Regions from separate parts of the Homo sapiens genome. Here regions 2 and 3 are each linked to region 1. Evidence: fine-mapped expression QTL. A gene starts in region 1. Each other region holds a variant in brackets. All regions are shown on one strand. Distances are between the middles of the regions.

Region 1 (2,771 bases):
TTTTTTTTTTTTGATGGAGTTTTGCTCTCGTTGCCCAGGCTGGAGTAAAATGGCATGATATCAGCTCACTGCAAACTCCACCTTCCAGGTTCAAGCAATTCTCTTGCCTCAATCTCTCGAGTAGGTGGGATTACAGGTGTCCACCACAACGCCCGGCTAATTTTTTATATTTTTAGTAGAGAAGGGTTTCACCATGTTGGCCAGGCTGGTCTTGAACTCCTGACCTCAGGTGATTCACCCGCCTTGGCCTCCCAAAGTACTGGGATTACAGGCGTGAGCCACTGCGCCTAGCCTCTGTGTGTTAAGTGCTGGAACTATAGTTTACAGTAGCATTTTATCCTCCCAACATACCCTATCAGGAAAAATTATTATTGTCATCCTTATTTCACAGATGTCAAAACTGAACAGAGAGGTACAGTAACTTGCCCAAGACAACACAGCTAGTAAGTGAAACTGAAATCTGGACAACTGATTTTTTTCAGCCAAGCTCTTCAAGCCCGCTGCTATGCTGCAGCTTAGCTGGCGACAGGCCCTTATCAAGGCAGAACTGTGCCTTGATAGAGGCCAGGAAGGCGATTCAGAGCAGTAGGCCTTGTCCATGTGTTTGTTCCCTGCTTCTTCACCACTTGAAAATAGTGTTTCAGTGCCCAGTAACAGGGCACAATACTCTTTTCCTCAGATTAAAAGGGGAGCCATCTGCTTAAGGTGGTTGGGTGCCACTGCACTGCACAGAAGGTTCTCCAAGTGTGAGCTTGGACCCAGGCAGGCCTCAGGTCAGTGGTAACGGACGACTGCTTCCGTGGTGTTGGCAGGTGGAAATGGAGGGATACAGCTTTGTCCGGCTCATGAATCCCTGGGCATTGTCCCGCCTGCTAGAGCCTCTGATCTCTGCCCCTTCTTCACCTGCAGTAAAACAGTCACTAGTTTGGTTGCTCTCCCTAATACCTCTGGTCACTGGGAGCTGTGATCTCACCAAACCCCTGCCAGGAAAAGCCCCAGAAAAAGCGGAGGGAGTGAGAGCCAGAGGCTGCTGCTGCCGTTTGCAAGAACTGCAGGGGAGGAGGACGCTGCCACCCACAGCCTCTAGAGCTCATTGCAGCTGGGACAGCCCGGAGTGTGGTTAGCAGCTCGGCAAGCGCTGCCCAGGTCCTGGGGTGGTGGCAGCCAGCGGGAGCAGGAAAGGAAGCATGTTCCCAGGCTGCCCACGCCTCTGGGTCCTGGTGGTCTTGGGCACCAGCTGGGTAGGCTGGGGGAGCCAAGGGACAGAAGCGGCACAGCTAAGGCAGTTCTACGTGGCTGCTCAGGGCATCAGTTGGAGCTACCGACCTGAGCCCACAAACTCAAGGTAACTCAGGTGTGGAGTCCGGGTGGGCTTCTCTAGAGAGGAAAATCTATTTCTTTTAGAGAACATTCCCTTTGCAATGTCATGGCTTTTTTTTTTTTTAACTTCAGGTAAGTAAATATAACTAATAGGAGAGTATACTGAATTAAATAAACTGGGCAAATGCTAATTTTGCATCCAACAATGTAGTTTATCATTCTGAGGGTTTAGAAAGCACCCTATTTGATTGGTTAGATGCTACCTTCTTTTCAAGTTTATTTTCAATACAGTTTTGTTAGTATGTTTGTGTTGGCTTATATATTGGTTAATTCAAAGGCACCAGGCACTTGCTCCCTCATTAGCCCTTCCTGCAAACTCCTGTTCCAGATTTTTAGTTGTATAGTATTTTTATGAGACTCCTAGTTACATATTATTTATTCCATTGTCTACATAGCTTCATCTTCTAAAACTAAAAATGAACACCTTGTGCTTTTTGTCATATAATTTTATTGCTGCCTTATAAATGACTTTCAAAATATCATCAGTTCTTGTATGTTTTTGTACTTTCACCTTTTTTCTGCTTCATATTTGACTTATTTATCCTATTGAATGTGACTCTTCATTTTTTTTTCTCTCTGTTCATCATGTCCTGGGATATGGTTTACCTTGGCTACTTAAAGGCATATGTAACTGAGAGGAGGTTTAATTCAGATAAAATACTATCCTTGAGTTGCAAACTATTTTTTCTAATTGAAATGTTAAAAATAAGACTTCTCAGAAATTAACTAAATCATACAGTCTATTCAATATTTCCAGTTAGTTATTTTTTAAATGGTAAACCTGCTAGTGTGACTCACTTTTTTTCCTTACATCACACTTCATTATGAAAGATGTGTTCCTCTTTTACAATTACAAAACCAAAGTAATCTGCCAAAAAATAATGTAATATTTTGAGATCTTTTAGTGTATAATATTAACCTTTTTAAAACTCTCATTGTAACTGGGTTATTTTGGAGGGTATTACATACCATCTTGGTCTTATAATAAGAAGAGATCCCTCCTTCTCAAAAATAATCATTTTAAATATCGTACTTCAAAGTGATAATCTAGGTCACACCCACACCCTTTGGGAACTGCCGTAAGCTAAAACCCCAAGGAAAATAACAGTCCTTCTAACACTAATCTTGCCTGCTCATGAGTAGAATGCAGACTTGGTTGTTGGCTTTCTTGTAGCATGCTGGGTTCATGCTTGGGAGTTTTTTCTCTTGTCTGTAGTTAGCGTTGAAAATAACAAGCAAAATACCGGAGGCAGAACCAGATAGGGCAAAGGTCTGATTCACATGGTGAGTACACAGGGAACCATGACTGGTCATTCTGTCCCCTCATCCTGTGGGTAAGTTTCCAAAGTTCTGGAGATTCGTTCCTCTGGTAGGAATTGTTGAGTCAAAAC
Region 2 (2,771 bases), 22 kb after region 1:
ATCTGCAAAGACCCTGAGGTAGGACAGAACTTGGATGTCTGGGGAACTGACAGGGGACCCAAGGGACAAGGAGCCCATAGTAAACAAGAGAAAAGACGTATGATAAGACTGAAGAGAGAAGTAGAGGTAAATCATACATGGACTTGTGGTCCACGTTAAGGACTTTATGCAAGAAGTAAATCTAGATATACCTACTCAACTTATGGTTTCCATGCTCAGAACCTCATGAGATACATTGCACGTTACTGTAGTACCTGAATCCTTCATTGCTATTGAATGGATGTGCCTTATTTTCCACTCCCACCTGGAGAATCCAAACATATGCTGATGCCATGCAAACTCATGCAAAGCGTTTTGAGTGGAATAGATTTTCCACAGTTGGGATGGGGAAAGGTACAATTAAAGAAGGGAAGCTGACATTGCTGTAATGTAAAAAAATATTTTATATGGAAATTTAGCATCTCAGACTTTGGCTTCAGAACATAAGGAACCAGATTTACCCTTTTTCTCAACAACTAGACAGGCAGACAAAACATATAAAACAGAAGTTTTCAGACATCGAATGACAGACAACTCAAGACAGTAAAAGAAGAGTAACAAACCAGATGTGCCCTATGAGCACCTAAGCTTACTGCTTGAAGAGTGTTTCCAGGGAACAGCACAAGCAGGGAGAACCCAGACAGAGTCTCTATGGGTTGAGGAAATAGAGTTTGGACTTCGGAGAAGCTCAAATGGCTAGAATTTGTGATTTTAGGGCAGAGTCCTGCAGAGGACAGTATAATCACAGAGAAAGAGCTCTAGAGAATCTACAGAGAGGTTTTGTCAAGTTGAATACTGATCTGCACATACATGTGAGGAAAGTACTGAGGGTAAGAAAAATGTCACTTGAAAGGAACAGGTGGAACAGTCCCTGGACCTTACTCAGGGCCGGTAATCGTTTATGTTCCTACCATCAAACATAGAAAGACCTCCTAATAAATGAGCACTGGATAGAATTGTCAGAAGGATTTAGAAACAGTGGGTGGATAAAATTAGACTACAGGCTGCTGAGGAGGCAACAGAATAAAAAACAAGATTTGATTTCAAGTATCTTAACTGTGAATAAAACTCAA[T/C]ACTAGTTAACAAGAATGCAACAAACAACAATGTAAATTCACAATGTTAATAAAAATAAACAAGCATTAGAAGAAGCAGAAAGAGATGACTCATAACCAAGAAAAAACTCAACAGATTGAGAAGTGAAAGAGAGAATAGAAGCAGCAGGCAGAGACAGTAAGACAGCTATCATAAATCTTCTCAATATGTTCCAGAAAGCAGAGAAAAGCATGAGCATGATGAAGATAGAGAATATAAATATGCATACACAGAACTTCTGTAGATGAATACAATTGTTGACATGAAAAGTAAAAAATAAAGCATAGAAAAGAAAGGTAAAAAATAAAGGATAAAAAAATATATTATAAACTGAAGGATACCACTAATACAACAAACACTGGATGAAATTAATAGCACATTAGACACTGTGAAAGGAAATAGTAGAAAATATTAATACATTGCAATAGAAACTGCAAAGTGAAATACAGAGATTAAAAAGGCTGAAGAAAGTGAACAGAGCATCAGTGAACTGTGGGACCATATCAAGTGATCTAACATATGTGTAATTGGATCCCAGAAGTAGCAGGAACAGAAAAAGTATTTGAAGAAATAATGACTGAAAAATTCCCAAATGTAATGTAAACTACAAACCAACAGATTCAAGATGTTTGACAAAACTAAGAAGAAGGAACATGAAGAAAACCACACCAAGCCACATCACTATCAAGTTGCTGGAAACCAGTGATAAAGAGAAAATATTGGAAGCAGTGAGAGATAAAAACACACACCACATACAGGGGAACAAAACCAAGAAATGATAGCAGACTTATCGTTAGAAACTATGCACACCAGAAGACAATTAGGGACATCTTTAAAGTGTTGGGAGGGTAGAAGATAGGGGAATCTGTCTGTTTAGTATTCTATACCAAGTCAAAAAGTCTTTTTTAAATGAAGGCAAAATAAAGAGTGTTTTAGACATACAAATGCAGAAAGAATTTCTCACTAACAGAGCAGAAAAAAATGTTAAAGGAACTCCTTTAGATAGAAGAAATATTATGTCAGAGAGACATTTAGATTCATAAGAAGGAATGAAAAGTTCCAGAAGTTGATAAATATAGAGAAATTTTTTCCTCGTTTTAATCTATTAAAAAGGCAATTGATTATCTAAATGTTAAAGCAAAATAGTAACAATTTATTGTGGGGTATATTATGTATATATAAATAAAATGTATGACAATAGCACAAAGGCTGGGAGGGAAGAAATGGAAATATATTATTGCAAGGTTCTTACAAGTGAAATAGTATAATATTATTTGAAGGAAGTTTGTGACAAGTTAAAAATGTACTATATATTGTAAACGGAAGGGCACCACTAAGAAAACAAAGCTAAGAAGGCAACAATGGAGATTAAACATCACTAACTATACTCAATCCAAAAGAAAACAGAAAGGAAGGGGAAAAGGAATAAAGACCAGATAGACAAATAGAAAATAAATATAAAGATGGCAGTTTTAAATTCAACCATATCATCAATTACATTAAAAGTAAATGGAAAGAACACTACAATTAAGAAACAAATAAGATTGAATAAAAAAGCAATGCTAAACTGTATGCAGAATTTAAGAAATCCACTTTAATGAGAGAGACAAAGATAGGTAAAAAATAAAGGATAGAAAATT
Region 3 (2,771 bases), 21 kb before region 1:
GGAGGTTGCCAAGGGCTCGGCGGAAGAGGGAAATAGGGAGTTATGGTTTAATGGATACGGAGTTTCAGTTTGAGATGATGAAAAGAGTTTTGGAGATGAATAATGGTGATGGTGGCACAATAATATGAATGTGCTTAATACCACTGAACTGTACACTTGATATTGGTGACATGGTAAATGGTAAATTAAATTTCATGCTACGTATATCTCACTATAATAAAAAATTGAACAGCAAAAAAAAAAAAAAAGAAAAAACAAGAAGGCAATAGAATAGATGGCTATACACCATGATGCTGACACTTAGTCTGAGTTATGGAATGTATTGTATATGTTATCTGGGAGAAAAAGACACAATGAGCTCTTTGACACACTTAAAACGGATCATAAGGGATTATTCAAGCCATTGTTGTCTCCAGGAAGGTAAATGTCTAATCAAGAAAAGATAGTTGGATATTCTCTTAAGTATCCAGAGATGTGGTCTCACTAACCCCCTTCATAGGCCTTCTGAATGTTTCCCACTCCTGAACTCAGTGTCTGCATGTGACGCAAAGCCTTAATGATATTATTACTATCTATTACTACCACTGCTACTAATATAGCAGCTAATGTTCATTGAGCACTTTCTATGATCTCAGTCTAACTCTATGAGGTAGTTACAATTATTACTACCATTTTAAAGATGAGAAGAGACAACACATGGAATATGTGTGCTCTCTTCGTATATGGTTATTTATTTTACATCTTTGAGATCATGGTGTATATTATAATTTTTACTCTGATTTTTTATTTAACATCATACATTGAGACCTCTCTCCTATCTTTACAAGTTAAAATATATTATTTTTAGTGACCTTTAACATTCTTTTCATGGATCCACCATCATTAATTTCCACCCTCAATTAATGGCATTTGTGTTTGTTTTCAATATTCCGCTCTTACAAATAATGTCTTCACAAAAATCTCTAAATAGATTTTTTGGTATGCATCTTGATTACATACTTAGCATAAATTCTTGGGTCCAAAAGCATGATAACTTAAAAATTATTGACACATGTTGCCAAGATG[C/T]TCAACAAAGGTTTAGCATTTCCTAATAAAATCCTTCATGTGCCGTTATAATTAAATGACACTTTTTCTTATCTTCTATGTTAAACAAGCCCAATTCAGGAATCCCTGTTCTTGACACTAGAAAGAGTTAATGGTCAAAAATCAATGAGTACATGTGTATTACTGTTTCTTTATTCCTTACTTCCTCATCCCTTAGCTTTGCAGTGCCAGGATCTCCCAGTTCCAAATGAGGCCCGGGTGAACTGCTCCCACCCCTTCGGTGCCTTTAGGTACCAGTCAGTCTGCAGCTTCACCTGCAATGAAGGCTTGCTCCTGGTGGGAGCAAGTGTGCTACAGTGCTTGGCTACTGGAAACTGGAATTCTGTTCCTCCAGAATGCCAAGGTAAGAGTGTATTCTTTCTAACATCATGGAAATAAATTGTAGGCAGTATTTTTAAAGGCTGGATTTTAGAGGTGACAACTATGTAAGATCCACCTTGAAATGGACTGGAAAATTCATAAATACTCTCACTCATCCTCTTGTCCTATAACCCAAGGATCCCAAATGCAAATGCCTCCGGGGGATAGGCAGATTACACAAGTGTCAGGATGTCTGGCCATAGACAGTAGGGCATGGCCCTTGCTAACTCCTTATCAGGGTCTTTACCCAGACCTGAAGGCTCCTGCCACAAACCAGGTAAACTCTTCTCACCTGGCCAAACATGGCATCTGGAAAGAAGACCAGGTGGGAAAAAAATTGCTTCAGAGTGGTTGTCCCAAGGCTGGTCTGGCACTTCTAGGAACCACAGGGTATAATGGTAAAATGGGAGGGGCAGAATTTACAAGTACCCAGTTGCAAACACTCCAAGATCTGTATAAAATTGGAGAAATAGACTTAGAATAAGGTGAAGAGTGATAGAAAAAAGAGAAAAACTAATCTGTATACTGGAGGTTACGGGATTCTCAGAAGAAAGAAATGTGTGGATTCAGTATAAACATTCTATCTGCATTGTACTTGATATACATACATTTTTTGAGACGGAGTCTCACTCTGTCGCCCAGGCTGGAGTGTAATGGCACAATCTCGGCCCACTGCAACCTCCGCCTCCCGGGTTCAAGCAATTCTCCTGTCTCAGCTTCCCGAGTAGCTGGGACTACAGGTGCCCACCACTGCACCCAGCTAATTTTTGTATTTTTGGTAGAGATGAGGTTTCACCATCTTAGCTAGGCTGGTCTCAAACTCCTGACCTCAGGTGATCTGCCTGACTCGGCCTCCCACAGTGCTGGTATTACAGGTGTGAGCCACTGCTCCCGGCCTTGTACTTGATATTTAACAAGCCAGTGTGCTCTGTCAGTATTGCAACATCTTGTATGAACTTGAACGGGTTCTAGTCATCCATGTTTGTGAATTGAAGGATAGACGTATATTTTTTATATTCCCCAAGCTTTTTCCCCCTCAATGTATCCAATTCCTTAGTTAACTTTTATAGACAATGCTGCTTTTTAAACGCAAGATTTTCATTTATAAAAATCTGCAGAAATATAATAAAGAAATGAAGAAATATCCTCTTAAATACTCCTATCCTAAAATAGACACTGTTAGGCTTCTGGTATGAATTCTTCCAATATTTTCTCCGCTTTTCCTCCTATGCAATTAATATTTTTATGATGTATATACAATTTTAACAATAAAGTTGAATGGGTAAAAGACTAGACAGTTCTACATT

Evidence for each region. PIP is the estimated chance that this variant, and not a neighbour inherited with it, causes the effect.
Region 2: its variant is fine-mapped to the expression of F5 in whole blood (INTERVAL, PIP above 0.99).
Region 3: its variant is fine-mapped to the expression of F5 in whole blood (TOPMed, PIP above 0.99).

The regions. Positions count from the first base shown.
Region 1 is chr1:169,584,803-169,587,573 of GRCh38, reverse strand. F5 (coagulation factor V) reads left to right here and starts at 1,093. Exons shown (of 25, transcript NM_000130.5): 1 at 1,093-1,345. The coding sequence starts at 1,188. RefSeq lists enhancers at 618-1,117, 1,118-1,619.
Region 2 is chr1:169,562,328-169,565,098 of GRCh38, reverse strand. The region is part of intron 3 of F5 (coagulation factor V); the gene reads left to right. Among named protein-coding and RNA genes, the nearest start is that of F5, 23 kb to the left of the region's middle. The variant T/C (reference allele first, on the strand shown) is at 1,113.
Region 3 is chr1:169,605,625-169,608,395 of GRCh38, reverse strand. It overlaps SELP (selectin P), which reads left to right. Exons shown (of 17, transcript NM_003005.4): 9 at 1,262-1,447. Among named protein-coding and RNA genes, the nearest start is that of F5, 21 kb to the right of the region's middle. The variant C/T (reference allele first, on the strand shown) is at 1,066.